Linked DNA regions of Homo sapiens. The protein of the gene in region 4 interacts with the protein of the main gene of each other region in a pairwise test. Each region holds a gene or a part of one and is shown on either strand. Other genes may lie near its edges. The genes, in order: NFYC, MAT2A, NRF1 and ZMYM6.

Region 1 (8,676 bases), 5.7 Mb from region 4:
GTAATTTTATCTGCTACATCAGCTATCAACATAAACCTGACTAATGAAACTTCCAGATAATTTTGTATTTCCAAGTGGATCATCTACTTTGATTTCTGGGTGTTTAGAGTGTATAAAATGGAAGACTATAATTCTTAAGAATTTCTTGTGCTGCTTAAGGATTCAGACCACAGAATTGTAACCATAGAGAATATGGGTTCTTCAGCTAGGTATTCAAATCATATCCCTTGGCTTCTATTGTGAAAGGGAAGATTTACCAAGTAAATTGCTGCATTTTTTCCTGAATCCAGGTAGATAATGGGGAAAAATATGTACAGAAACTTGAAGAATCTGCATTCCTTAAAACCAAGCTTCAGAATATTGCAGATAGTCTTTCTGTATGTGGAGGTAATTTATGCCAAATGGCGAGGAACTACCAAGTGCCTAGTGTAAAGAGCTCACTGGAGAGGTTTTTCAAGCATCACCAGTTCCTTAGGGTGTCCCCAAATACCAGGACCTATTCAAAGGCCTAGTGCTTTCTTCAGACTGTGGGATATTGATTCTAGGATATGCTTATCCTGAACAATGTGTAAAATTAAGACTGGATAGGACAAAATATTTGCAGTTCCAATTTTGCATGGAAACCTTTAAATCAGGGTTTGAGAGGAGACCAGTGAGTTGGAAATCTTAATTGCTTTATGTCTTGATGTGCTTAGGTGAAGCCCTCCCTCATTTTTGTTTACAATAACGTTTCACTGTGGAAGATAGAGGCAAAGCTACAAGTGAAAATAGGGTTTGCCATGTATTTTGTACATTGGTCATTTCAGCCTCATTTGGCTCAGTCATCAAGTTAACCAAATATGAAGAATGCTGTAGATCTATAACTTAGTTTCGTTTTTAGTAAGACTAGACAAGGTGATAAAAATGAGTGTATATGTACACCTTTTTTTTTTCAGCAGGCATTTCTGGAGCAACCTGCCCTTCAACATTGGTGACCACCTTCATTCCATGTTAGCCCCTTATACCCATGGCCACCTTGTTAAGATCTGGAATTGACCACTCTAGAAATCTTGAACTCTCAGGAAATCTCAGTAGATCTGAGTTTATGTTGAAAACTTGTGAACCTCAGCTTTTTCTTCAGGCAGAAATCATACTAAGATTTATACTTTATAGGCTGTGTTCATGGCATCTTATTTAATTCTTATGACAAATCTGTTATCTCATTTATACTTACACATTTTTTTCTTTGGTCAGAACTACTAGAGACTGGGCGCAGTGGCTCACGCCTCTAATCCCAGCGTTTTGGGAGGCTGAGGCAGGTGGTATTTGAAGTCAGGAGTTTGAGACCAGCCTCGCACACATGATGAAACAAAATTACAAAAATTAGCCTGGCATGGTGGTGGGCGCCTGTAATCCCAGCTACTCGGAAGACTGAGGCAGGAGAATTGCTGGAACCCGGGAGGTAGAGGTTGCAGTGAGCTGAGATTGTGTCACTGCCCTCCAGTCTGGGCAACACAGCGAGACTCAGTCTCCCAAAAAATAAATAAAAATCCCAAAACTGTACTAGAGAAGATTTTACAAGGCATTTTTATCCCCTTTTATTTTCAGAGAAATGAAGGCAAAGCGAAATGAGGATTCATACCACAGAATTGTAAACATATATGGGCTAAACCCATTCTGTGCTATGGAGCTATGCTGGGAGTCTTGTTTTGGGTTTTGTTTTGTTTTGTTTTTTGAGAGTTTTACTCTGTCACTCAGGCTGGAGTTGCAGTGGTGTGATCTTGGCTTACTGCAACCTCTGTCTCCCGGGTTCAAGCGATTCTCCTGCCTCAGCCTCCCGAGTAGCTGGGATTACAGGTGTGCACCACAACACCCAGCTAATTTTTGTATTTTTAGTAGACACGGGCTTCCACCATGTTAGCCAGGCTGGTCTTCAACTCCTGACCTCAGGTGATCCACCCACCTCGGCCTCCCAAAGTGCTGGGATTATAGGCGTGAGCCACCGTGCCCAGCCAGGCTATGCTGGGTGTCTTTTTGAGGTAATTTTGAAATTTATATCTTTTAGTTCAAAAGTACTGAGCCACTAGGATCTGTGAATCAAACACAGGGATAATATAGTTACTACTTTTATTGAGTGCTTGCTTACATTGTACCAGCTGGGATATAAATGTATTATGTATATTTATTCTCATACACTATGAGGTAGATAATATAGCCACCCTCATTTTTACGTGTGAGGAAACTGAAAAGTAATTTGCTTAAGTTCTCACAGCCAGTAAGTAGCAGAGCCCAGATTCAGACACGGATTTGTAATTCTGTTTTTTTTTTTTTTTTGAGATAGAGTCTCGCACTGTTTCCCCAGACTGGAGTGCAATGGCGCGATCTTGGCTCACTGCAACCTCTGCCTCCCAGGTTCAAGCGATTCTCTTGCCTCAGCCTCCTGAGTAGCTGGGATTATAGACGCCCGCCACCATGCCTGGCTAATTTTTTGTATTTTTAGTAGAGACGGGGTTTCACTGTGTTGGCCAGGCTGGTCTCAAACTCCTGACCTCGTGATCCGCCCTCTTCGGCCTCCTGAAGTGGTGGGATTACAGGTGTTAGCCACAGTGCTCAGCCACAGATTTGTAATTCTTAATTCTTATGTAAATGAAGCCCTTACTCTTAAACACTGTGTTGACACCATAGAATGTTATGGGAAAAGAAAAAAAGTCCTGGCTTCTTAGCTCAGGAAGCGAACTTCAGTTCTTTCAGGCGTGTCCTTTGTACTGAGGCTCCAAAAGAGTGAGATGACCTTGACAGGGTCACTTGGCTATGCAAGGGCAGAGCCAAATCTTGCCCAGATCACTGGATTTCCAGATAGGTGCTCATTCCACTGGATAGCATTGCCTCTCCTGTGGACGCATTGACTTGATGGCAGAGATGACTTTAAGTGACAGGTTTACTTCATTCACCGGAATGAGAATGGCAGAGGACATTACTAGGGTCACAAATGACCTTCTTAAGGTCAATCCTGGCCTCAGGCATACAACCAGGAAGAATATTCCTTTGCCAGTAAGTTGTTCTTTTCCATTCTGTTTCTTGTTCTCAGAGGAAACTGGTTGTGAGTTATCTGATGTCTTACAGTCTTTCTTTTCATTTTGTTTATTCAGTTTTTCATGCATGCACTGTCACAGTTTAGGAAGGCTACAAGGTCATTTTAGTGTTTTCCTGCAGAGACTCAAAGCACTCAATATAATGTAAGTAGATTAATTGCAGGAGGAAATGGATTTTTAAAACTTTGGCCAAAAAGTGCCTATGGGAGAGGACAGTATTAGTTGCTGATTGGAGTCAGACCAAGGGAAGAGTTCTGTCTCTGCAGTGCATTTACCCTCTGTGCTGGAGCAGGTTCTTAACTTGTTTCTTCTTCTGTAAAATAACGACAATAATACCTACCTGTAGGGTAATTATGAGAAATGAATATAATAGCGTGTGGTAGATGCCTATCACTTAGTGGACCTTAATAAGTGGGAGAACACATTTTCATTTTGGAACAGCATGAAATCTGTCCTTTCAGCCCGTTACAGCTTCCTTGATGAGGAGGGGTGAGGCCTTTTGTAATTGTCTGCTCTGCAATATACAGTAAGATTTCCAAATGGGAGAGCAACCACTTGACATGAAGTAACCTAATTTAGTTGTGCTGTTGTGGTTTAGGAGCTGATTTTCAGTGGACCAGTGTGAGGTCAGTCTTACTTTTGAATGCACAAAGTAGTAGGATCATTTGTTTCAGGGAAAGATTGTTTCCTGATCTCTTTTGTTCATCCCCAAGTGTTGAGTGGTAATGATTGCGATGCGATGAAAACTTCTTCATATTTGACAAATAGCAATGATGATTAAATTCGGAACAACTGGTGTTTTCATTCTGACCAGAAGGAGAGATTTCCATTATAGTCATTTAAAATTTTTCTAACTGTACAAATTATCAGTTGAAGTAGGACCGTTGGTTTGGTTTGTGTGATTTGTAGTCACTTGAGTAACGTTTTCTTTGAAGTAAGCAGTTAGACAGTATTGTGGAATGGTTCAGGAAAAATCTCTCTGCCTGCAGAAAATTTTGCTAGGTTGCAGGAATTGTTGCACCCTTCCCACACTTCTCCATGTGTTAGCAGTGATGTACCTGATAGCAGTGAGACAGCACCTGTACTCATTTTCAGTATTGGAGTTGTATTTTCCATTTTGTTATTTTCAGATCTCCAGATAGATTACTTCTACATCCAGTACTTCATGAGAGCTTTCTATTGTATAAACTTGTAGTTTAAAGAGTGGAACTAGAGTCTAATCTTTGCATTTGAATGTTTCCAGTAGAATACGTTTAAAATAAAGGTTGAAATATCCATGTCTGGTCAGGCACAGTGGCTCACGCCTGTAATCCCAGCACTTTGGGAGGACGAGGCTGGCAGATCACCTGAAGTCAAGAGTTTGTGACCAGCCTGGCCAATATGGTGAAACTCCGTTTCTACTAAAAATACAAAAATTAGCCAGGCATGGTGGCAGGCACCTGTAGTCCCAGCTACTCAGGAGGCTGAGGCAGGAGAATCGCTCGAACCCAGAGGCGGAGGCTGCAGTGAGCTGAGATCATGCCCCTGCACTCCAGCCTGGGTGACAGAACGGGATTCCCTCTTTGAAAAAAAAAAAAAAATTCACGTTCAAGGTACTATATATAAGGTGTCCTATTTAAATGAATGCCATTCATTCATTTATTTATTTGCTGGAGTCTTGCTCTGTCGCCCAGGCTGGAGTGCAGTGACATGACCTCGGCTCACTGCAACCTCTGCCTTTTGGGTTCAGACGATTCTCCTGCCTCAGCCTCCTGAGTAGCTTGGGACTACAGGTGCGTGCCACCACACCTGGCTAATTTTTGTATATTTTGTAGAGACAGGGTCTCATCTTGTTGGCCAGGCTGGTCACGAACTGCTGACCTCAGGTGATCTGCCTGCCTCAGCCTCCACTGCGCCCAGCCTGAATACCCTTCATTTAAAGCCAATAGTATATCCTTTGCCTCCCGGGTTCAAGTGTTAAAGTCAATTGTATATTCTTAATAAGATTCAATAATTGTCCTATTCTTAAATACATTCATGAGTATGAACCATAAATAGTGATCTTGAGCAGTGTTTCAAAGTGTTTTAATAAGAGGAATGAGATGGGCCGGGCGCCGTGGCTCACACCTGTAATCCCAGCACTTTGGGAGGCTGAGGCGGGCAGATCATGAGGTCAGGAGTTTAAGACCAGCCTGGCCAACATGGTGAAATCCCATCTCTACTAAAGATACAAAAAATTAGCTGGGCGTGGTGGTGGGCCTCTGTAACCCCAGCTACTCGGGAGGCTGAGGCAGGAGAATCGCTTGAATCCGGGAGGCAGAGGTTGCAGTGAGCCGAGATCGCGCCTCTATTGCACTCCAGCCTTGACGACAGGGTGAGACTGTCTCCAAAAAAAAACAAAACAAAACCAAAAAAGGAATGAGATGACTCATAGGAAATGATGTTAGAGTATAGAATATTTTGTATCATGTCATTGGCTTAAATCTGAAGTACTGAAGGTTTTCACAATCCCAAATTACTGTTGCCCTTGGCCTCCAGAGCTGTAAACTGTCCAGTAATCTCTATGAAGTTGAGATTCTTTGCCCAGTGTTAAGAAGATATATCCCTTTGACACTGGCATGATCTGTTCCTTTTAAAAGAGAAGAGAGAAGGGGCTAATAAAGTACACATTATCTGCACAGTTGACATCCTTGTCATTTTAAACTGTTTTAAAAATTATTACTGTACCCTGAAAGTAAGTAGCATAGAATTTGCTCATTATGAAATGACGAAGTTGGGGCCTTTTAAGAAGCCAAGAATGCTTGGTTGGCAATCACTTAGGAGGCAAAGGATTGCTATTTATGGTGGTATTTAATGTCATTTTCAGTAGTACTAAGTTAGAAAGGAAAACGCCATAATGTGTGTAAAACTCTAACCATTTTGGAAGGTTATCAGAATACAGTTGCCTATAGTCTTTTCACTCCACTAAAATTTGTAAGTTGGTTTAGAGTAGCATTTCCCAAGCTCTTCCACTGAACATTAGTTCTGTGTAGTGCTAATCAGTGTCCTTTGGGGATAAAAAGAGGATCCTTGACAAAAAATGGCCAAAGTGAAATGCCTTTCTTTACTGCAGAATTATTATTCAGAGCCTTGGTGCTTATTTGCCTATGACCCTTCAAGAGGGAAGATACATTACGCGGTGTTACTCAGACTTACTTGGTCATGGACCGCTGTTTGTGAGAACACCTAATAAACGTTTCATGCTATGACTGGTGTGTAGTGGAGCCCAGTTGAGCAGTTCTGGTGTAGTCTATGAATAAAAAAATGAATCATTTTGTATAAGATAGCTTGGTAATCGTGGGAAAGGACTTTTCTGAGAACAAGATACATCTTCAAGGTAACGTAGACTCTTAAGGATGAATGTGATTTCAAAGGTCATCTAATCCAATGCCCAATAACAATAATAATAGTAGCAGGTACCATTTTTTGAGTACATGCTTTTTATCAAGCACAGTGTTGTTATTCTACATGCCTTATTAACCACTGGGTCTTAGTGATTTTTGAATCTTCTTTATTTTTTATTTTACTTTAATTAATTTTTTTGAGATGGGGTCTCACTTTCTTGCCCACGCTGGAGTGAGGTGGTGTGATCATAGCTCAATGCAACCTCAAACTTCTGGGTTCAAGTCATCCTCTTGCCTCAGCTTCCTGAGTAGCTGGGACTACAGGGATGTAGTACCATGCCTGCCCAGCTAATTTTTTTATTGTTAGTAGTGAGGAGGTCTTGCTATGTTGTCCAGGCTAGTCCCAAATTCTTCAGTTCAAGTGATCCTCCCACCTTGGCCTCCCAGAGTGTTGGGATTACAGGTGTAAGCTACCGTACCTGGCTTATTTTTTATTTTTTGAGATGGAGTCTCACTCTATGAGGTTCAAGGCTGGTCTTGAATTCAAAAAAATTTGTTTTATTTTTTAATTTTTAATAAACTAATAAATGGACGTTAAGGAGATGACAAATTCTGAATTATTTGCTTTGTTGTCCAGGCTGGTCTTGAACTCAGTGTCTTCACTACTGCATCCAGTCACCAGATAACTTTAGCATCCTGTTTTCCACGTTAGTGGTCTAGAGTGCTGCCATCCTCCCACTGTGTCCCCTTCTCCAGCTTATTCTCCACACTGTACCCAATGGTAAGGAACTAAACAGTCTTAAACATGGGGCTGGGAAAATCAGAATTACACTTTAAACGTGGGACTGATTGTGCCAGTCCAATGTTTAAGACGCATTAGTTCCTTATCATTGTCCTTAGAATAAAGTTTTAGTATATTAGCTTTGTCCAACCCTGTATACCTTTCTTTTTTTTGAGAGAGAGTCTCGCCCTGTCACCCAGGCTGGAGTGCATTGGTGCAATCTTGGCTCACTGCAACCTCTGCCTCCTGGGTACAAGGGATTCTCCTGCCTCCAAGGGATTCTCCTGCCTCAGCCTCCTGAGTAGCTGGGATTACAGGTGCCTGCCACCATGCCTGGCTAATTTTTGTATTTTAGTAGAGATGGGGTTTCACCACGTTGGCCAGGCTGGTCTCAAACTCCTGACTTCAGTTGGCCTCCCAAAGTGCTGGGATTAAAGGCATGAGCCACTGCGCCCGGCCTACCTTTCTAACTCTACTTCTAGCTTCTTGCTTCTGGGCTGCTGCTATACCAAACAGGAATGTAATACTTTCTGTCAGCTTCAGGCCTTTGCACATGCAGTTCACTTTGTCTATCTTGGTTTTTATTCTTAGGATTTTAATTCTCCTAAGAAGCTTTCTCTGACCAGCCTAAAACTTACGTAAGCCCTGGGTTAGGTGCTATGCTTATGTCCTCCCATAGCATTTTGCATTTGCATGTGTTGTAACTCTTAATGTACAGCATCATGATTGCCTATTTTAACTTTCCTGTTTGTTACAGTAGACTTTAATCTCTTTAAGGACAGGAACTGTGTCTTGTTTAGAATCCCCAGAGCTTATTTAGTACAATGGCTATGCTTATAATTTAAGTATTTATTGAACAAATGAAATTTTCCTAAGCCCTAAAACCTTGCAAGATGTTTTAGTGCAGGAAACTGGCCTCGATGGAGTTGAATAACTAGCACGAGGTCACTCACCTAAAAAGTGGTGAGGAGGGATTAAAATCTAAATCTGTTTAGCTGTAAAGATTGGGCTTTTTTTCTTGCTGCTGCACATGACTGCTCTCTCTCATGTTGCCTTTACACATCCCTGTCAAGTGTTCAAACAGCCCGTGCCTAACAACCCCATCCATAGCTTCTGAGGAAAGTTGTGTCATCTTTGGACAGCTCTGAGAGCTGAAGCGAGTCTTTGCAGAATAATTTCCCATCTATTGGTCTTAATTTATGCTTTGGAGAATATAACTTATTTTCAAAAAACAAATAATTCAGAATTTGTCATCTCCTTAAGGTCCATTTATTAGTTTATTTCATTCCTTCATTCACTGATAACCATTTACTGAGCACCAGTGCAATGTTCCTTTATTCTAATGACGTGGTCATTGCTCAGAATGTTTCTGGGCCTTTTTTGGGGATTATCTTCAGAACTTTTTTTTTTTTTTTTTTCGAGAGGGAGTCTCTCTTTGTCACCCAGGCTGGAGTGCAGTGGC
Region 2 (9,456 bases), on a different chromosome or scaffold from region 4:
CACCGTAATTTTAAATTTCTCAAATAACTAAGTCTTCACTAAGGCAGCAGTTCAAAACTGTTCCAGGAATTAAAATATATTCCCATTTGAGGAGTCTTCCTTCACACCTTCACCTCCTCAGCCTTAAGTATATACACACACACCCAACACCCTCAATACTTGACTAGCAACAGGCTTTACCATCTTTACCTGACAATGACCCCAGGGCGGAGATCGAAATTCTTCTTCACAATCTCTAATAGCTCTCTCTCACTCTTCTGAGAGGTACCATAATGGAAAATGGAGATAGATAATGGATGAGAAACTCCAATAGCATAAGAGACCTAAAAGGATTCAAATGTCGTAAGAATCAGTGATTGCAAAGACCCATATACTTGTATAATACGTTGGTATAAAACAAGTAGTTAAGTAGATTACTACTAAATACCCTCCCACTTACATGACTTTTAATCGTTCGTTATATAAAGAGTGTATACCTGAACAAGAACCCTCCGGCACAGACCTCCTTTAACAAGGGATTTTGCCACCCAACGAGCAGCATAAGCAGCTGAACGGTCGACCTTGGTATAATCCTTTCCTGAAAAGGCACCTCCTCCATGAGCACCCCAACCGCCATAAGTGTCCACAATGATTTTGCGTCCAGTCAAACCAGCATCACCCTGAAATTACAGGATTTAAGTTACTTTACGCCTAGTGCTTTCCAAGTGGATTAGGTTGCCTATTCTGAATTCATTCAGCAAATATCCTCCGATGATTCACATGTAGGTTTCAGAAAGCCTGAAAAAAATGTAGTAGCCAAAATTTTAAGTAACCATCAAAAATCCAGAAAAATGCAACAAAATGACATTACCTGAGGCCCACCAATAACAAATCTGCCACTTGGCTGTAGGTGGTAGATTGTATCCTCATCAAGGTATTTCGCAGGCACAACTGCTTTGATGACTTTCTCCTTTAGGGCATCCCTCATTTCATCAAGACAAACCTCTTCATCATGCTGAACAGATATAACAATTGTGTGGACTCTGATGGGAAGCACAGCACCTCGATCCTGCATATACTGCACAGTAACCTTGAAGGCAACACAGGTCATCAGAACATCACACCAAACAATAACTTTGTATTTGTTTCTCTACCTGAAGTTACAATATAGGAAAACAAATGCTATTTTTTCCAGTTAGCTATTATCAAAATTATGGATCTTCTGTGCTGATGTAATAAATGAGACAACCAAGCTTTATGATCATCACTTACTTGAGTTTTAGAATCAGGGCGTAACCAAGGCAAAGTGCCATTACGGCGTAGTTCTGCCAGTTTGGCATTTAGCTTGTGTGCCAAGACAATGGTTAAAGGCATACACTCCTCAGTTTCATCAGTGGCATAGCCAAACATTAAGCCCTAAAGAAAGAAAAGTCACCAATGTGATCAAGCTCCAGAATTTAATGTTAGAAGAGATTAAAACAGCCTCTACACCAAGATACCTGGTCTCCAGCACCAATGTCTTCTTCATTTCTGTCAAGATGAACACCTTGAGCAATATCTGGTGACTGTTGCTCCAAGGCTACCAGCACGTTACAAGTCTTGTAGTCAAAACCTATAAGCAAAAAACACAACATCTTGTTTACGTCCTAGAAATACCTGCTGTTTACAGCAATTATCTGGAATTCTAAACACTGCTGAAGAAATCAAATATACCTAAACCATCGGACCTTTTAGAGAATGAACAGAATAGGGCTTAGTGTATAGTAAGATACAACTGGAGTTTAGGATTAGCAGGAACATTCTAGGAGTTTCTTCAAACCTCACAGCTGTTACCTAGAAAAAAATGAGCAAAATCATTAAAACACACCTTTGGAAGAATCATCATATCCAATGTGTTTAACAGCTTCACGAACCACTTTCTGGTAGTCAACAGCAGCTCTGGATGTAATTTCCCCAGCAAGAAGGATCATTCCAGTTTTAGCAACAGTTTCTAATAAAAAGAGACATTCAACTCAAACATCACTTCTATAAAAATAATTTTTATGCTATCTTTCCACCAGTTGATAAGCACATTCTGAACCTACCACAAGCTACTTTGGCATCAGGATCCTGCTGAAGGTGGGCATCAAGGACAGCATCACTGATTTGGTCACAAATCTTATCTGGAAAAGAGAAATTCCTGGCTCAGTTTCTTTAACTTTAAACAAAGTATGTATGTATGTATGCAAGCTCCCTCCCTGTTACTATCTGTAAAATCTTTGGAGATTTTAAAAAACATGCTTAATACATCTTAATTCATTGTGTTTGCACTTTCCTCCTAAAATTCAAAGTTTGCATTATAAATCTAATCACCAGAAAGGTGAACTGTTAGTCCTATATCCTTTAAAGAACAGAATTTGCCCTATATCATATTCACTTCCACAACTGTACCAAACCCCTCTGCACCTGGGAGTCTGGTAGAACTGAGGCCACAGGTAGGCCAGTTTCCCTAATCTTAAGGAACACCAATTATAATGAGCAACAAGATAATTCGATTAAACAATTAAATGAAAAGCATTTTCTGACTAAAATGGCAATTATCTGATTTTGCTGTTAGGAGTTGCGCAGGAAACAAAAGCTCAACAGTGTAGAAGATGCTCAAACGTATTCCGAATCCATGTCTCCCTGCTTTGTCATCTATTGTTAGGAGGGAGAACAAATATCTCCCTAATTCAAGTTCGTTTTTCTGAATTTTCTATAACCGCCTAAAACAGAATCCAAACATAATGTGGAAGCCAGACTGCAGGCTCTGAACTTCGGTCTACTACTAACTGGTGTAACAGCTAACCTTCAGCACTCATCAAGATCCTGGGTTTGTCCTCTCATACCACTAAGTTACTTGTGGGATTTCATCATGGGCACAGTAAACTGACCAGACCCTAAAGCCACCAGATAGATAACTACTGCGGTCATCCTAAGGGCAGAAACAGCCAAAAGAGCCAAATAATCATCTTTACTAGCCGATATGCTCAGGCTGAGATTTTCAGTTCCTGGAAATATAGCTTTACTCCTCCTTCACGTGCCAATTGATCCCCATAATGGCGGTTGAGCGGACAAAGCCTCAAGTAAAACCCTGCACCGAAGACTTTAAATGCGAACCCAAAGCAATGGCAGCTCCTAATTCATGCTTCCCATCCTTTTCACAAGGGGTCCAAATAAGGACTGCCTTCTTGGACATGAGCTATATTTAGTCAGAGGCCGTCACCTTGGAGGCAAGGCCATATCCGCCGAAGGGCATGTGCGTATTCTCCAGTGTGTAGTCAAGACCTAACCACTGAGGCAGTGGAGCCAGACGACGTCCCAAGGCATAGGCCCCCCACCCCTCAAACTGAGGGCCAGGACAGCCGGGGAGGCTCACGGCTCCCCCTCGCCCAGATACCACATGCGGCAAACACGTGGTCGCCGCTGCAATGCGGGGCGCGCGCTCCCGAGGGCCGGACGCGAGCACGCGGGGCGGGTCGCCCACTCCAGGTTTGTCAGACGGCAGGGCCGGGAGGGGTTAACAGTGCCCTCCCTTCCCGGCCAGAACTCACTAGCGACCACAGCCCCCGCCCTTCACGTTTTCTGGAACCTTCCGCATGCCTAGGCGCGCGACCGAATGAAAAGGGAGGGGGGAAGGGAAGGGTGGAGAGGGGAGGGGGAAGAGGAGCGGCGGCCACGCGCCAGGCCCTGGCGGCGCCACGAGGAAAGCGCGCGGTCGCCGCTCTTCCATCACCCGGCGGACGAGGACGACCCGCGCGGGCCCCACCACCGGCCGGCCGCAGCCAGCCGGACCTTGGCGCTGCCTTCTGCCCCGCCCCACGCTTCGCTTCAGGCCGTCCCCTCACCTGGGTGGCCTTCCCCGACCGACTCTGAGGTGAAAAGGAATGTGCCCTCCTCGATGAACGCCTCGTGGAAGCCGTTGAGCTGTCCGTTCATGTTGGTGTCGGTGTGCGGAAGTGGCCTTACGAAGGAGCAGCGGCGAGGCGGCAGCGGCTGCGAAATGCGCAAGCTGCGGACAGCGTTCTACTCGTAGCAGGCGGGCGGCGCGGAGCGAACGAAGCAGCGGGCGGTGCGGCCCGGTATTTATAGAGCAGCGCCCGCGCGCGCCCGGCTCGGGCCCCGCCCCTCGGCGCCGCGCGCCAATGCACCACTTGCGCGGGGGTCGGGGGAGGAAGGGCAGCTCGCCCCGCGGAGTCCGGGCTGAACCACACTGCGCGGCCGCGGGAGGTGCCGTGGCAATCCGGCCCTCCAGAGACCGTTCAGCTATCTTGAGCCGCTAGAGCTAGGAGAAAAATGCAGACGCGAGGAGACGTGGGGGATTGCTCTTCCTTGTTTGATGTGGGAGAAAAAGCGACTGGGGCTTGCTGGACCCGCTCCCCTGTGCGGTGACATGGCACCTCCCTTCCGACCGTTGGCCGGGATAGCTTTCCCGGAGGTCGCGTCCCCCAGCGGAGGCGGCGGGAATCGCGGAGGTTTTGTGCTGCGGCTGGGGTCTTTCTGGCCGTCCCGCCTCTAGATGCCGGGTGGCAGGGAGCCGGTGGCGGTCGGCCATGTGAAGGTGGCCATCTTGGCCGGCCAGCGAGGGCTCCTCACGGCCTTCCTTCGGCGTCCCTGCCCGGCTCGTTGCCGGCCCCGGGATATCTGAGGGGCGCAGGCCCACCTTCTAGTCGTTTCCTGGTGAATGGCTCTGCTGAAGATGGCCGGAAAGCAGATTAATGAAGGTGCTGCCATCGATTTAAACAATCGCCCTCCTGCCCGCTCCCCTGCGCTAAAGTTTCTGAGGGATCCTCACCCTTCGTGGTTCGTGGACTTAAAAGTGGAGGCAGCGCTCCAGCCTTTCCCTCCAGAGAGAAAGGAGGCCGCTCCCAAGTCCGTCCTTGCCCCGTGGCCTTCCTGTTCCTTTGAAGGGGGGGGGAATCGATGTTTCAATCCTCTGTTCAGGAGAATATGGAACGAACATTTCTTTTTTGGTGGGTGGGGGCTATTCGTTCCCTTGAATGTGCTTAAGCAGATCTCTTGACGGCGTGGAATGGGCTGTTTCATGAAGCTTTCACTTTAAAATGTCCACCTGCGTTTGTCCCAGTTTTGCCCAATAAAGGAATTACAGGGAAAAAGAGCGAAACAAAACTTGAGCCAGCAAGGAGTATGGAGTCCCGTTTGGAGGGAGCCCGCCTTGGGGGCGGGGGTCTCTGCAGCCTGTTCTGGGGCTGGGCCTCGGTGCAGGTCTGGTCGGGCTGGTGGCCTGGTGGCCCTGAGCGGAGCGCGTGACAAGAACGCCGGGTTTAATGAGGTTCTCAGGGAACGGCCTGCTCCTAGCATGGGATGTACTTTACGCTGGGGAGGTGAAGGAGACCCCTAGTAACAGTCTCCAGCTGCCTACTGCTGGCGGCAGTAGAACAAGGTGCATTCCCAAGAACAATCCTCTCCGTCGGTGCAGGAGGAAAGGTGGGATTTGCTAAAGGCTCAGTGGGAAACAAAGGAAGCACTTGGGCTGTGCTGGGGGCATCCACAAAGAAGATAAAGGGCTCCTCCCCAGACTCAGTGACCACATCCACGGTCGCTCAAAGCAGGCAGCAAGAAAAGGTTCGACCACAAAAGAGACAATAGGTGATGATATTTTTATTCGTTGCTTTTTACTTTTCAAGCTAACCCTTCATGGGAAAGTAACTGTATAAGACTATTAAATTTTTTTGTTATTTTTTAAAGGAGAATGCCAATTTATTAACTTACAATGTGTAATAAAATTGTCAACTGGAACAAAATGCGTGTGTAGGCTGGTCAGTGCATTATCTCCCAGCAGAAAAATCTATATGGGAAGCCAGAATATAACTAGAAGGTTATTTTATTAGGGAGTCAGAACAAGGAGCGTAAAGTCAATGATTGGCTCATTAAATCCTGATACCCCTGTGCTACCAACTCCACAGTGGGGCTAGGCCTGCCAAGGAGATGAGATTTAGCTGTACATAGTTGCTTACCTACTTCTCTCACTTGTGAATAGTGTGTAGGTGTAATACAGTAAGAGTAGGGGTTTGGAGTCACGACCTCTCTATGCATCAGTATCCTCGTTCTGTAAAATTGGAATATTAATAGTACATCATAGGATTGTTTCAAGGATTCAAATAGTGCAAGTAGAGTCTTTAGCACAGTATCTAGTACATAATTTGTTTTAATGTAAGCTGTAAAAAAATTAACTATATTTGCTGTGAATTACTTTTCAGTGGCTTTCAATTGCTGTCGGGATACGGACTAAAATCTCTACATACTCAAGGCCCCAGTGTGATTTGGCTGCTACTTCTGCAACCTTACCTTGTGCCACACTCTCCTTTCTGTGTTCTACTTGGATTTTTTAGTTAGTAGCAGTTAATTTTATTAATTTCATAGTATCAAAACAAAGGAGGACACATTTTCATTTATTTTATATTATTCGTATTGTCCCTTCCTCCCTTCCACAAATATTTATGAGCACATCTGTGAGTCAGACCCAGGAGCAAATGCTATAACAATCCTGGTCTCTGCCCACTCGGCGCTCTAAATGTGGGGAGATGCCTGGCTAACTCCTTATCCTTCTCACTCCAGCTCAGCTACCACTTCCTGGATGAAGCCTTCATCTACACAGATTTGTCACAGGGGCCTGTGTTTTATTTCATGGCACTAAGTGCAGTTTCAAATTATAGATTTGGTGATTATTTGATGAATGTCTCCAATTCCCAGTTAGGCTTGTAAGCTCCATGATAATGAGAAGGTGGGCTGTTTTGCTCAAGCTTTGTTACTGAATGCCTGGCACACACAAGGTGCTTAGAAATGTTCAAGAGGGAGAGACAAGAAAGGAAGGGAAGGAAACGGAAAATGAACGAATATAAAGATGGCAGAAGGGGGCGGGGCACGGTGGCTCACGCCTGTAATCCCAGCACTTTGGGAGGCCGAGGCGGGGTGGATCACGAGGTCAGGAGATCCAGACCATCCTGGCTAACACGGTGAAATCCCATCTCTACTAAAAATACAAAAAATTAGCTGGGCGTGGTGGCGGGCGCCTGTAATCCCAGCTGCTTGGGAGGCTGAGGCAGGAGAATGATGTGAACCCGGGAGGTGGAGCTTGCAGTGAGCTGAGACCGCACTACTGCACTCCAGCCTGGGCGACGGAGCAAGACTCCGTCTCAAAAAAAAAGATGGCAGAAGGAAGCAGAGAAATGAGAGACTCTGGCGATCATGTGAAATCAATGGAAAGAGGTCCTGCTTTGTTTTAGTCGTAAGCATTGTAATTAATAAAATTAAGACTTCTTTGTTAACAGGGAAGCACATGGCCATCCTGTTCTGACAGGAATAAGATTTCTGATTTCATAGATGCGTGTCCTAAGGGTGAACTAAACCAGGAGAAATTGTTGGTTTATTTCCTGTTTATCGTTAATGAATTTGTTGAATGTGAAGTGTTGTAAAGCACGTAGGAAAAATCTAATCACTGCCTAAAGGCTTCAGATTTCTCAAGCCAGAGAACATTAATGTAGCAGTAACCCTACAAAAAAGGCAAAGTTGGGATTGGATAAAAATGGTATTTGTGACTCAAACAGCAAATAAAATAACTCCTTATTAGCCTGTCAGTCATGGGGAGAGTTCCAGAAAACATTTGCAGTGCAAGAAGCTGTTGATGTGGCAGGAGAAAAGAGGAGGGTGACAGTAGGGATAGCAAAGAGCAAGTGAAGGTGTGGAGGTGTTGAGAAGGAGGTTCCTAGGCTGTGTGTCTTAAGAGCACCTTCTATGTGAAGACAGACCAAGAAGAAAGAAATGTAGGCCACGTCTCCAAATTTGTGGCAGTTCTTTAGGGCCAAAGCTTAGATATCTCGGATGGCCTCAGAGGCAAGCTAGTTCTAGTGGGATCAGAAACAAGTACTATGTGAACCCCCTCATTATTAGGCTTTTTGTATTTTGTTTTTATTTCTATGTTTTTCTCTTTTGATACTTAAATCTTTTTACAGTCCCAATAAAGAAGTCCTGAATGGAAGAATAGATATGGTACAGTGAAGAAGACACTGAAGGAGATAATAATATGATGACAATAGCTACACTTTATTGTGACAGGCACTGTTGTAATATCTACTACTCACAACAGCTCTATTTCTCTTCCTGTTTTACAGATGAAGAAACTGGCATGTTATTCGTCCATGTCACACATCAAATCAGTAGTGGAGCTAGGGCCTTGAGCCTGGTCTGACCTCTAAATTCATGCCCCTTCTTATAGCCAAACAATAAATACTGCATACTCCCTGAGGTCGTTAATATTAACAATTTGGTTTATATCCTCCCTTTCCTTTTTCTGTGAACACACACACGCACACATCTTACTATTCAGAGAAACATGGATTTTTTTTTTCTTAACAATTTTCATGACTGTCTCTCCAGGATACTATGTAGAGCTGTAAATCATTTCCTTCTCTTTTACTGTGGGAAAATATATACAACATAAAATAGGTAGCTCACCAAGGAGAAAATGCAAATTGCAATAAACATATGAAAAAAATGCTCAACCTCGTTGATAGATGTGATGTTAATATATGTGTGAATTTATATATGTTTTTATCCATGGTTCCTGGCTCATAACTCCCATAGCCCTTGTTATACAGTGTTTCGTTATAATGTTGAGAGTGTTAGGACTCAGGAGCAGGCCTCAGGAAACAGAATCTCTCTGACTTTTTCCTGCTTCTCTTTCACCTGCCCCAAGGCAGGACTCTAATCTTGCCCTGCCCTTCTGATCATGGGTCATAAGACCCTCATTCCAGAGAGGGTCCTACCCCATACCCTGGGACAAAGAATGCTGAGAGGACTGGGTTCAGAGAGTTTCTGGAGAGCTGAACAGGTGGAGGCTGACAGGAAAGTGAATAAGAACTCATCCACGTGCCAGGAGGGTGGCACACCCCAACTCCATGGTAACAGAAGCTCCTACACTTGGGACCCTCCCAGACCTCACCCTATGTATCTCTTCATCTGGCTGTTTGTTTGTATCCTTTAAAATAACCAGTAAAAATGAGCAAGTGCTTCCCTAAGTTCTATGAGCCACTCTAGCGGAAAAAAAAAATTTTTTTTTTTTGAGACAGAGTTTTGCTCTTCCACCCAGGCTGGAGTGAAGTGGCGAGATCTCAGCTCACTGCAGCCTCCACCCCTGAGTTCAAGTGATTCTGCTGCCTCAGCCTACGAGTAGCTGGGATTATAGGCGCCTGCCACCATGCCCTGCTAATTTTTGTATTTTTAGTAGAGACCGGGTTTTGCCATGTTGGCCAGGCTGGTCTTGAATTCCTGACCTCAGGTAATCTGCCCACCTCCGCCTCCCAAAGTGCTGGGATTACAGGTATGAGCCACCGTGCCCGGCACACTCTAGCAAATTAATCAGACCTAAAGAGGAGGTGGTACCATGACTGTGGTCTGTATGGATCTTCACCTTTACTCTAGGGGCAGGAGATACGTGGG
Region 3 (4,533 bases), on a different chromosome or scaffold from region 4:
AAATGCTTACCCCTTATCCCTAAACTGGCAAAACTTACTCTTAGAAAAAAGTTACATACAATTTAACATTGGAAAAGAAAATCTTATATTTGATTTTTTTTGCATTAGAAAATATTTTGACAACCCTTTTTAAAATAATTTTTATCTTCATCAAAGTAGCCTATGGTTTAAATGTCAAAAAGAACTAAAAGGGGCCTCTCTGGGTCAGTTTCTCAATACAGTGGGTGAACCTCAGAGGCCCAGTCAGCAAAGGTCTTTGGGTCTGGATGTTGGGGTTGGTCTAATCAATTAAATTCAAACTTTCCACTCATTCTCATTTTTAGCCTCATCCCTCTTTCTGCCGTAGCTAGGCCTCTATGTGCTGAGCCCTGTGTGAGCATAGGAGTTGCCCCTTCCACTTCTCTGTTCAATCAGAACCATTTCACATTTGCTTTGCATCTTCCCAAAAAATGTTGACATCCCTCGGTTATATCCTTTTTTCCTCATTCACTGTAATTCTAGTTTCAGAAGGAAGAGAGATTGATGTATATGTTAGTTACTGCCTTACTGGGAATCCTTTTTTTTAATGTATTATCAGCTTTCCCTTTTTAGGCAGGACTACCTTTATGGAGGTTATGTGCTTCTTCCTTTAAGCCATCCTTTCTACTCTGAAATAATAGTGATATTAGGGAGTAGCTGGGGTCTTTTTTTTTTAAGTTGACCCCAAAATGTGTTTTTACATTTTACTGGTGTGTGAAATCTAGAAATCAGGAAACAAGTGACCTAGGCTTTAAAAATAAATAAATAAATAAAATAAGCTTGACTATGAAGGAAGGCACATAGACGGAGCAGTGGCCAGAAGACAGGATAGGAGAGGGACAAGATTTTTCTTTTCAAGCTGAGAGAGACTTAAGCATAGGCAGAAAGAGGGTTGAAGAAGGCAGTGTAGCCAAATATCAAAGAAAAATAATGGTGGCCTGTTCTGAGAGGGAGAAGACAGGCCGGGGACATTCACACCTGACGGGCCTGTGCTTCCTAGATGCGGAGGCAGGCAGGGCCCTCTCACGGCAAGCTGGGAAGGCCCTACCCTAAGGCATGTTTCCACAATTTCTCTAAACTTTTCTTTTCTGATAGTCTGTTTTAAAAAAATCAAAATGGTCAGGGTTGGTGGTTCACGCCTGTAATCCCAGCTATTCAGGAGGCCAAGGTGGGAGGATCACTTGAGGCCACGAGTTCAAGACCAGCCTGGGCAACACAGCAAGACTCCATCTCAAAAAAAAAAAAAATTATATTAGCCAGGCATGGTGGCACACGCCTGTGGTTCCAGCTACTCAGGAGACCGAGGTGAGAGGATCACTTGAATCCAGGAGTTCGAGGTTGCAGTGAGCTGTGGTCACGCCACTGCACTCCAGCCTAGGCTACAGAGCCAGACCCTGTCTCTTAAAAAAAAAAAAAAAAAAAGTTAAAATGGAAAAAAGTTGATTTCCTAGAAGTAGAGAGTAGAATAATAGTTACCAGAGTCTGGGGAAGGGTTGGGGAGGGGGGCAGGAGAGGTTGGCCAGCAGGTGCAAAGGAAGAATAAGTTCTGGTGTTCAGTTACACAGTAGGGTGACTGTAGCGAATAACAATGTAGTCTGTGTTTCAAGATAGCTAGATTTTGAATGTTGTCACCACAATGAATGATAAATCTTTAAAGAGATTAATATGGTAATTTTCTTGATTTGATCATTCTACAGTGTATACATGCATTGAAACATCACATTGTACCCCATAAACATGAACAGTTACTATATATCAATTATAAATCTTAAAAATTAATGAAAAAAATTTTAATGGGGTGGGAAAGAGATGTCTTTGTGCCTGGGCCATGGGTATGTGATCACCTGAGGCTGGTGACCACGATACCTCAAAGGCAAGACTTGGGTGCCCCCGTCCAGCCAGCATCTGGGAACTTGAGCCTGAGCCCCACCAACGGTCTTCTCTTTGTCTCTCCAGGCCTGGTCCAGATCCCTGTGAGCATGTACCAGACTGTGGTGACCAGCCTCGCCCAGGGCAACGGACCAGTGCAGGTGGCCATGGCCCCTGTGACCACCAGGATATCAGACAGCGCAGTCACCATGGACGGCCAAGCTGTGGAGGTGGTGACATTGGAACAGTGACATACAGCCATATTATGGCATCGTTTTCTAGTCTACTTCAAAATTTTTTACACGTTTGCAGAGGTGCAATCAAATGGAATTAAGTCTCTCGACTTTGGAAGGAAAGTTTTGTTAACCTTTTTTTTTTTAAAAGGAAGAAAGCGGATTTTGGAATTGCATTTTTTAAAGCACCACTCTTGATTTTCTGGGATTGGTGAAGAAACTGCATTGTCAATTTCACTGTCCCAAAAAAGCCAAATTGTGGCAGGACTTCTTTCTGCGGAAATGTGTGTGTATACTTATGTGTGTGTATGTGTGAGTGTGAATATATGTATATGTGTACATATGGACATACACATTTACATATATATAAAGTATATATATACATATATATATATATATATGTATGAAACCCGCATGGAATTATCTGTATGAAATCAAGGTGCGCTGTGGAAACAATAATTCACCCAGTTTAGTGGGTGGTAGGGTACGTGGCCAGACACAGTCACCCAGTTTTTGTTCATACCAGGGTCATGCGTTGAGCTACTGACAAACTCAGGCGGAGGTGACCATGCCCTTCACCAAAGCTGCCTCCCAGTGGCCACACAGAACTCTCCCTGCTGGACTCACCTGAGGAAAGAGGCTCCAGCATGGGGTGGGTCAGAGATGTGCTTGCAAGGTCCAGGGACTGCGTGGTCTGCCAGCTGAGATGCTCCTCGGGCTGGCCCAGGTGCTGACCTTGCCACAGGCAGATGAATGTCTTGAAAGCTCCCGGGCCTCAGCCTCCCATCTCCTCTCCTTCCCAGGAATCCTTGATCTCATGACTATTAAAATGTTGCTCTGGTTTTAAGGTCAGTCCTGAATTGCTCGTATATATGAACTGAAGGTAACCGAAGTATTAGGGGTTTGAGGAGTGCGTGCGTGTAAGTGTGCTTGTGTGTGTGCGTGCATGGTGGGGGAGAGGATGGGAAGGGGGCGGGGGCAGTGGAAGGGAAAGGAAGGAAAGAAAAATCGTCCTAGACCAGGATACACCCGTGGGAGCAATTTTCTCTACTGTCTGTAGCTTCACAGAGGAGGCGCTGGAATGAACAAGAAGAGACATCTGGTCTGTGGCCACAGCACCCTGAACGCCCCTGATCTTGTGTGATCTTGGAAGCTAAGCTTGGTTGGGCCCGGTCAGTACGCGGAAGGGAAGAAGGGACACCTGGCCATAGAAAACAGCTGAGGGTGTTTGCTGTGTTCCTGGATCAGGCCCTGCTTCAGAAGGGACTCCTGGAGGCCCATGTTCCTTGATGCAACCTCGTGGCCCAGGCCGGGAGCAGCTTGCCTCCTCAGAGGTGTTGACTATCTGGGTGTTCTTGGTAACCGTTAACTCTGTCTTTCTCAGCTGCAAGCCCTGAGTCTCCAGTAGCTGAATTCACCTGACTTTTCAACAGGCCAAATCTCTGAACCTTGAGTACAGGGACAGCTCCTCCTCCCTCCTCCCAGCTCTCCCCATGTGTGTGATGGTGTATTTAATGTGTTTTTTTAATGCGACATTAAAAGATTCTCCACGTCTTGCTCAACCTTTGAGAGAAGTTTCAGATTCTTGTATTTGCTTGTTTTATATAAAACTATCTAATGTTCTTTATATGTTCTTTTCTGTACGTAATGGGGGGAGGGGAGGGAAATTTACATATAAATAGTCCTAGTTCTACAATTTGTTATTTTTTTAATTATTATTTTTTATCGTCATTGTGAAGTTGTCCAGGGACTTTAAAGTCCATGTTCCTTTGTGGTGAAATAACCTCCAAATAGTTTGAGAAGTTGCCAAGACGAAGAAAAAAGCAAAACCCCAGTAGCAGAGCATGGATTCTGTGTTGTTTCCCATTCTGTCTTTGACTGCCTCATTCAATAAATAGTTAAAAATGTGGCAACAGGAAGTGGAATTGTTCATCTCTATAGGAGCTCTTGGCTTCTTAGGCAAAAGGAACTCTATCTTGGGGCAGCTCGTTCTGCGTTTAAAATGCAGTCCTACTCGAGATCAGCGGTCTCCGACCTGTGCCACTCCGACGCTGGGGACCTCCGTAAAGAAGACACTGAAGATTGCCCAGAGCCCCCTGCGAGCCCCATCACCAGACCTGCTCCATTTCATACATTTCATATATAACGTGTTTTCTTATACTGACGTTCTGGGGAAAAAATCGTATTTAAAAAATCCTAGGCCGGGCACAGTGGCTCCCGCCTGTAATCCCAGCACTTTGGGAGGCCAAGGTGAGTGGATCACTTGAGGTCAGGAGTTCCAGACCAGCCTGGCCAACATGGTGAAACCTTGTCTCTACTAAAAATAGAAAAATTAGCTGGGCATGGTGGCGGGCGCCTGTAATCCCAGCTATTCAGGAGGCTGAGGCAGGAGAATCGCTTGAACCCAGGAGGC
Region 4 (8,676 bases):
TTGTGTTTTTTTCCAGTAGAGAAGGGGTTTTGCTATGTTAGCCAGGCTGGTCTGGAACTCCTGACCTCAGGTGATCCGCCCACTTTGGCCTCCCAAAGTGCTGGGATTACAGGTGTGAGCCACTGCACCCGGCAAAAAGGAGCAATAAATGAAATTAAATCTGGCTGGGCGTGGTGGCTCACACCTATAGTCCCAGCTACCCAGGAGGCTGAGGCAGGAGAATCACTTGAACCCGGGAGGAGGAGGCTGCAGTAAGCCAAGATTGTGCCACTGCACTCCAGCCTGGGCAACAGAGCGAGCCTCTGCCTCAAAAAAAAAAAGAAAAAGAAAAAAAGAAAAGTTAAATCTGAATGATTTAGAGTTTGGATTTCAATCATTTTAGATTTACAAGCTGCCTTTTCTGTTAATGGCAGAAAAGATACAAGAGTGTCAATGCAATCTGCTCATTATACATAAAATCATCACAGACAAAATCCTATTTATTCTTACCACATTCTTTAAAACGTTTTAAAACAAAATGTAATCATGAAACATTTTTAAAATGTAAATGCCTATCTTTATTCTGAAATTGCAACCATCCTTTTTTTTAATGTTAAAATACCCTTACATATTTCAAAACAGGAAGTTTTTTAAAAAGTCTTACTTTTCTGAATCAATGATGGTAATAAATGGCAGTTGTATTTTTAATCTCTCCACACATAGCAAAATAAATGAGTAGCTATGTTAGTTCCAAAGTTACTTTAGAAATTTCTTTAGACTATTAAATGCCAAAAACTAGGAACCATTGCATTAATTCACCACTTCCCATGATATGTATTATGAGCACCCAAAGAGGTGCTCTCTATAAGATATGCCTTCTTTATAGATGAGGAAAGTGAAGCTAAGAGATGTTCAGCAACTTGCCCAAGGTCACAAAGAGACTACGTGCACAGATGGGAATCAAACCCAGTCTCTCTGTTTTGTTTTTTTTTTCTTTTTGAGACGGAGTCTCGCTCTGTAGCCCAGGCTGGAGTGCAATGGTGCCATCTCGGCTCACTGCAACCTCTCCCTCCCGGGTTCAAGTGATCCTCAGCCTCCTGGGTAGCTGGGATTACAGGCACTCACCACCATGCCCAGCTAATTTTTGTATTTTTAGTAGAGACAGAGTTTCACCATGTTGGTCAGGCTGGTCTTGAACTCCTGACCTCAGGTGACCCACCCACCTCCACCTCCCAAAGTGCTGGGATTACAGGCATGAGCCACCGCACCCAGCCAGTCTCTCTGTTCTAAAACCCAAGATAGCACTGTCATAGATGTGAAAATATAAAGTAATTACTACAATGAATTCAAACTCTGGTCCAACTGAAATTAAGTTCCCCTGTTGCAGTAGTCTCTCCCATCTCCTTTCTCTCACAGCAGTTACCATAGTAAATCATTTCATTGCTTATTTGGATAATTTGATTAATGCTTAACATTCATCCTTCCCCCTACACACACATTAGACTAAAAAGATCACATCCATTATGGACAATACCTGTTTTTCTCACCCCTGTATACCCAATCGCCCAACACAGTCAACATAACAGTAATGACTATAGGTTCTAACAGCAGACAGAAACAGATATGATCTTGACTCCTAAACAAGCTATTTAATCTTTCTTAGTTTCAATTTCTTTATCTGTAAAATAAAGATAATATTACCTAACCCATAGGGCCAACGGGGAGGGAGGGGGCAAATGACTTAATATAAATAAGGTATACAGAATGACATCTTACAGTTAGTCAAAAGCAAGCACGATATGTACACAAAATGCTAGTTCTTTTTTTTTTTCTTTTGAGATGGAGTTTCGCTCTTGTTGCCCAGGCTGGAGTGCAATGGCGGATCTCAGCTCACCACAACCTCCACCTCCAGGGTTCAATCGATTCTCCTCCCTCGGCCTCCCCAGTAGCTGGGATTACAGGCATGCGCCACCACGCCTGGCTAATTTTGTATTTTTAGTAGAGACGGGGTTTCTCCATGTTGGTCAGGCTGGTCTCGAACTCCTGACCTCAGGTGATCTGCCCGCCTTGGCCTCCCAGAGTGCTGGGAGTACAGGCGTGAGCCACTGCACCTGGCCAAAATGCTAGTTCTCATACTTATTTATTAGTTTCATAACTGGCATTTAATAAATACTTGCTAAATGAAGGAATCTAAGTCTATTCAATCCAAAGTGCATGTTCTTAAACATTATACTTAAATAACAATATTTATTGACACTTGCAAAATGAAGAGGACATTAAAAATATTATATACATCTTCAAATTACCAAAATGAGTGTTTAAGATTCAATAAAATTTTTTTTTTTTTTTTGGAGACAGAATCTCGCTCTGTCACCCATGCTGGAATGCAGTGGACGATCTCGGCTCACTACAAGCTCCGCCTCCCAGGTTCACGACATTCTCCTGCCTCAGCCTCCGGAGTAGCTGGGACTACAGGCGCCCACCACCATGCCTGGCTAATTTTTTTGTATTTTTAGTAGAGACGGGGTTTCACCGTGTTAGCCAGGATGGTCTCGATCTCCTGACCTCGTGATCTGCCCGTCTCGGCCTCCCAAAGTGCTGGGATTATAGGCATGAGCCACCGCGCCCGGCCAGATTCAATAAAAATTTCTTTGCCTTATCAACTCAATTTCTAAAATTTTTCTAGTATTTCTGTTATATTTCCCTGACCAGTTTCTTTTACCTCACAAAGTAATTTTTCTAAACCTTCATAGCTCACGAGTCCCAACTCCACATCTTTCCTGCTCATTGATGTTTCAATTGCACCAGGTAAAAACAAGTAACTAAGAACTCCCTCAACATCCCTCAGCCCCCTCCACCTTACCTACAAATTGCTCAGCAAACTGTCCTGCTATCTTACAGGAAAAGGAAACCTTCTTTTTAGCTATAGCTGAAATAGTGCTATTTTAGAATAATTATGTTCCAAGTATTGCAAGCAATACACTTATAGTAAAAATCACCATTGTTTATTTGATAGTCAAATTTAACCTGGCATCCTGTATTTTATCTGGAAGCCCTACATCTCCAAGTAGATAACTTTCTAATCTCAAATCCCAGATTTTTATGTGCAAATGCCTCCTTGTGCAGTTTACCACTTGAATGTCCCACAAGCCCTTTAAACACAACAGACCTCAAACTGCACTTAGTACTTCCTCCAAAATCCTGTTCTAACCCCTCAGTAAATGGTATCACCATAAACCCCAAAACCTGTAAGTATCCTTGGACTCCTCTTTGACCTTCACACCCATAAACAATCTCTAAATTTGATCAATCCTACCTAACCATTTTTAAATCTATTATCTTTTCCCACTTTATTGTTGATACTCAACTATTAAACACACCACATTCTCTCACCCCTCCATGACGTGGCTATTTTCTCTGCTATATTTTCTCTGTCTGAAACTCTTAGTCAATTTTTATAATACAATTGCTACCTGCTATGTGAAACCTTCCTCTCCTTCCCATATAGATTTAGGGCTCCTTCCCCTATGCTCCCAATGCACCTCACACAATTTTAAAGCACTTACCTAAGACTGTGATTTTGTATTTTTTTTTTTTCAGATGGAATATTGCTCTGTTGCCCAGGCTGGAGTGCAGTGGAGCAATCTCTGTTCACTGCAGCCTCCGCCTCCTGGGTTCAAGTGATTCTCCTGCCTCAGCCTCCCCAGTAGCTGAGATCACAGGCATGTGCCACGAAGCCTGGCTAATTTTTTTGTATTTTTAGTAGAGTTGTGGTTTCACCGTGTTGGCCAGGCTGGTCTTGAACTCCTGACCTCAAGTGAGCCACCTACCTCGGCCTCCCAAAGTGCTGGGATTACAGGTATGAGCCACCACTCATGGCCTTGATTTTGTATTTGCACAAAAGGTGGCACAGGCCAGGCACGGTGGCTCACGCCTGTAACCCCAGCACTTTGGGAGGCCGAGGCAGGTAGAGTTCGAGACCAGCCGGCCAACATGGTGAAACCCCGTCTCTATTAAAAATACAAAAATTAGCCAGGTGTGGTGGTGGGCACCTGTAATCCCAGCTACTCGGCAGGCTGAGGCAGGAGAACTGCGTGAACCCAGGAGGTGGAGGTTGCAGTGAACCGAGATGGCGCCACTGCACTTCAGCCTGGGCTACAAAGCAAGACTCCATCCCAAAAAAAAAAAAAAAAAAAAAAGAAAGAAAAAAAAAAGGTGGCACAAAGCAGCAGAAAGCATACAAGTTTGAAGACAATTAGGTTTAAATGAGAATGCATAAGATATGCTTAGCATAGCTTCTCACAAGGCACAGTCACTCAACAAATATTACTTCTCTCATTCTCATAACTTTTCTCTCCATTACACTATCAATTACCTTGAGAGCAGAAGTCCTATCTTTTCATCTCTGTAGCCTTTCTGAAAACAAAGTAACTAATACAGTTTACCATCCTGGTTAAGGGTTTGGGCTCTTGAATCAGACTGCTGGAGTCCAAATCCTGACTCAACCATTTATTAATTATGTGACTTTTAACGGGTTACTATCTAGGACTCAGCTTCCTCATGGGTAAAGTGGGAAGAGAAACAGTACTTAACTGAGGGTTGTGAGCATCGAATGGATTAAGGTATGTAAACTGCTCACAACAATGTTCAAGTATTATGGATTACAGCAGGCAGGAATAAAAACTCACTGAATGAATATGAATACTCAACATATATGAATATAAGGACTAAACTGCAACTTTTTTTTTTTAGATGGAGTCTCCCTTTGTCGTCCAGATTGGAGTGCAGTGGCGCAATCTCAGTTCACTGCAACCTCCGCCTCCCAGGTTCAAGTGATTCTCATGCCTCAGCCTCCTGAGTAGCTGGGATGACAGGCGCCCACCACCGCGCCCGGCTAATTGTTGTATTTTTAGTAGAGACAGGGTTTCACCAGGTTGGCCAGGGTGGTCTTGAACTCCTGACCTCAAGGGATCTGCCCACCTCAGCCTCCCAAACTGCTGGGGTTACAGGCACAAGCCACCGCGCCTGGCCTTCAACTATAATTTTAATATCCAGAACAAACTCTTAGAAAATCAGAAAATAAAAAACATTTTTATTTATCTCTTATTTTCCAATATTCAAAGGAGATTCATCAATGCAACATAGAAAATAATACACAATTTGTTCAATTGGCTTTTCAATCATAGTCTATACCCTCAATCATGAAAAAATATAGCCTATTCACCTGAAAACATTAATATAAACCAAAGACAACTGAGCAGTTCCTACCCTCTTAAATATACAATCTAAGCTGCTAGGGAGATTTCCATTATCACAATTTTTATATTCAGAAAGAACATTGAATTAACTTAAAGCACATTATTTGTTAAGTGTATAGGCAAGGTATAATGAAAGAAATATTGCATCTGGAGTAACAACAAACTGTTGTATCCCAGTTTTACCATGAGACACTGGTGAAGTCACTTATTCCTTCAGGTTCAGCTTCCTTATATGTGAAAGAGGCTCTTTTATTCCAATTATTGAACATGTACTTTGTGCCAAATCCTGTGCTAGGAATTGGAGATTCAGGTCAATAAGACCAATTTCTGACTTCAGAGAGACTGCAGTCTAGTGTGTCAATGAAAGATGAGGAGGAGATGGCCAGATTAGTATAATCAGTATGAAGACAAAATTCATTGACCTGTAGATACCATAATAAAAGTGATTGCACTATACAATTAAAAAAAAGAGAGAGAGAACAGCTCATTCTACTTGTGAGTGAGAAACTTCATCTTAAAAGAGGACAAAATTTTGCCAGCCTACCTAGCTTATTTCTTCTTCCACCGGCACAAGAAATGGCAGGTGCAAAGGCAGGGAAATAAAATGCAACCGAGTTTTAGAAGATAGTTTTGAGTGAACTGCAAATAGCTGGCAGCAGCATAGATTTGAAAAGGTGGAAACAATGAATGATGACACTGGAGAGGGAAACAAAGGCCTAAACATGGATGGTTTGGATGTCACATTGAAAGATCTTTGCTTCATCACACTGGAGGAAACAGGGTCTTTAAAGGGAGAAATATCACTCGATCTATACAGTACAATGGCATCACTGTAGAGTGTTTTGATGGGATATGTGACTGAAGGAAGGAGAATAGGTAGGAAACTATTATAAAAGTCCAAATGAAAAATAATGAAATAGTTCAGGCATGATGGCTCATGCCTGTAATCCCAGCACTTTGGGAGGCCAAGGCAGGAGGATTGCTTGAGGTCAGGAGTTCAGGACCAGCCTGGGCAACATAAGGAGACCCCGTCTCTACAAAAACTAGCTGGGTGTGGTGGAGCATGTTTGTGGTCAGCTACCTGGGAGGCTGAGATGGGAGGATCGTTTAGAGTGCAGTGGCCATACTCACACCACTGCACTCCAGTATGGGCAACAAAGTGAGACCCTGTCTCAAAAAAAGGAAACAAAAAAAAGAGAGAGAGAAATAATGAAATATAGAAGAACATCATGGGTCAGATACAAAAAATATTTAAAAGCTAAAAACCACAAAACCTGGCAAAGAAATGGTTACTTTAGGCAGAGAAAGAGTAAGAATTTACCATCTGGAGGGAAAACAAGTAGCATGGATGCCACCATCCCCCACTCCACATCTAACAGACACTACCTCAGAACTCTTCTTAGCCCAGCACTCTAGCAAGGCATAGAGTTCATGAGTGAAACAAAACCTACCTGACATCCCTGTCTTCTTATGATACTGCCTGTGGCTGGGCATGGTGGCTTACAACCATAATCCCAGCACTTTGAGAAGCCGAGGTGGGCAGAGCACTTGAGGTCAGGAGTTTTGAGACCAATCTGGCCAACATGGCGAAACCCAGTCTCTAACAAAAATATAAAAAATTAGCCAGGCGTGGTGGCGCACACCTGTAATCCCAGCTACTCAGGAGGCTGAGGCAGGAGAATCGCTTGAACCTGGGAGGCGGAGGTTGCAGTGAGCCAAGATCGCGCCACTGCACTCCAGCCTGGGAGTGACAGAGCAAGACTCCATCTCAAAAAAAAAAAAGGAATGATACTGCCTGTGAGATGGTGTGAAAAATAAAATTGTTTTTTATTATTTTAAAATATAATTGCTTTGCTGATACAATAAAGTCAATAACTTTGAGTGTAAAGCGAAAGAACTGTCCCAGAAGAAAAATTCCTTGCCAAAACAACTAACTCATCTCTCCCATTGATTTTATTTTATTTTTTTTTGAGACGGAGTCTCACTCTGTCACCCAGGCTAGAGTGCAGTGGCGCAATCTTGGCTCACTGCAAGCTCCGCCTCCTGGGTTCACGCCATTCTCCTGCCTCAGCCTCCCAAGTAGCTGGGACTACAGGCGCCCACCACCACGCCCAGCTAATTTTTTGTATTTTTTGTAGAGACGGGGTTTCACCGTGTTAGCCAGGATGGTCTCGATCTCCTGACCTCGTGATCTGCCTGCCTTGGCCTCCCAAAGTGCTAGGATTACAGACGTGAGCCACTGTGCCCAGCCTCCACATTGATTTCCGTGCTCTCCATTCTGGGTCCCTATGGGGTAGCCAGAATGATCTTTCCAAACACAAATCTGTTTCATCTTACTTTCTCACTTAAAACCCTACAATTGGCCAGGTGTGGTGGCTCACGCCTGTAATCCTAGCACTTTGGGAGGCTGAGGTGGGTGGATCACCTGAGGTCAGGAGTTTGAAACCAGCCTAGCCAACATGGTGAAACCCCGTCTCTACTAAAAATACAAAAAATTAGCCAGGCGTGGTGGCAGGCGCCTATAATCCCAGCTACTGGGGAGGCTGAGGCAGGAGAATCACTTGAACCCGGGATGTGAAAGTTGCAGTGAGCCACCAAGATTACAACATTGCAGCAAAACTCCATCTCAAAACAAAAACAAAAAACCCTATAATGGCTATCTACTGCTCTTAGGATAAAAACCAAAATTTATAACAAGGTCTGCTACGTCCTACATAATCCAGCCTTAAACTATATATACAGCCTTATCATAGAGAAGCAGAATAGCACAAGTTCTGGAGTCTGACCACCTGGATTTGAATCCAGTCTTTGTCATTTACTACTAACTGTGATCTGTGGTAAACTATTTGGCTTTTTTGAGCTTTGGTTTCCTCATCTGTAAAATGGGGATAATAATATGGTGGTAAGAATGGTGCCTGACACACTCTTAAGCATATATAAATATTAAGTTAATAATGTCACATATGATTATGATATAATATATACTACATACTGATATACTAATGCCAGCTATTTTTATTGTTGTTGTTTTAATCATTATCATCATCACCATTTTCATACCTTTTCTGTTCCAGGCTCACTGTTCCTGCAGGTCTTAAAAAGAACCATGCATCTTTCCAACTCAGGGCTTTCCTATTCACAGTTCCCTCTGTCTGTAATACTCTTCTCCATACCCTTTGCCTAATCAATTCATTCTTCATAATTCAGCTTACACATCCTTCCCTTAGAGAGGCCTTCCCTAGCCATCCCCAGGCAGACCACAACCAAAACTAGGTCAGATTCCCCATTTTAGGCTTTTCTTCCAGAGTACTTGTCATAGTTTGTAATTATATATATTACTTGACCAATACTTTTGTAATCTCTGCCTCCTCTACTAACATATAAGCTCTACAAGGGAAGGGACTAAGCTGACTTTGCTCAATCCTGGATCCCCAGAGAC

What was found.
Region 1: the proteins of ZMYM6 (region 4) and NFYC interact in binary tests that used the Homo sapiens proteins (3 or more experiments, as listed by UniProt).
Region 2: the proteins of ZMYM6 (region 4) and MAT2A interact in binary tests that used the Homo sapiens proteins (3 or more experiments, as listed by UniProt).
Region 3: the proteins of ZMYM6 (region 4) and NRF1 interact in binary tests that used the Homo sapiens proteins (3 or more experiments, as listed by UniProt).

What each region holds. Positions count from the first base shown.
Region 1 is NC_000001.11:40,693,728-40,702,403, forward strand, and holds part of NFYC (nuclear transcription factor Y subunit gamma), read left to right. Parts: intron 1-1,878; exon of another isoform or gene 1,879-2,018; intron 2,019-8,676. UniProt on the Homo sapiens protein: Component of the sequence-specific heterotrimeric transcription factor (NF-Y) which specifically recognizes a 5'-CCAAT-3' box motif found in the promoters of its target genes.
Region 2 is NC_000002.12:85,533,768-85,543,223, reverse strand, and holds the start of MAT2A (S-adenosylmethionine synthase), read right to left. Parts: upstream 4,057-9,456; 5' UTR 3,937-4,056; coding exon 3,846-3,936; intron 2,142-3,845; coding exon 2,064-2,141; intron 1,970-2,063; coding exon 1,847-1,969; intron 1,592-1,846; coding exon 1,479-1,591; intron 1,396-1,478; coding exon 1,252-1,395; intron 1,070-1,251; coding exon 851-1,069; intron 660-850; coding exon 477-659; intron 324-476; coding exon 190-323; intron 1-189. UniProt on the Homo sapiens protein: Catalyzes the formation of S-adenosylmethionine from methionine and ATP. The reaction comprises two steps that are both catalyzed by the same enzyme: formation of S-adenosylmethionine (AdoMet) and triphosphate, and subsequent hydrolysis of the triphosphate.
Region 3 is NC_000007.14:129,753,044-129,757,576, forward strand, and holds the end of NRF1 (nuclear respiratory factor 1), read left to right. Parts: intron 1-1,974; coding exon 1,975-2,138; 3' UTR 2,139-4,033; downstream 4,034-4,533. UniProt on the Homo sapiens protein: Transcription factor that activates the expression of the EIF2S1 (EIF2-alpha) gene. Links the transcriptional modulation of key metabolic genes to cellular growth and development.
Region 4 is NC_000001.11:35,021,311-35,029,986, forward strand, and holds part of ZMYM6 (zinc finger MYM-type protein 6), read right to left. Parts: intron 1-8,676. UniProt on the Homo sapiens protein: Plays a role in the regulation of cell morphology and cytoskeletal organization.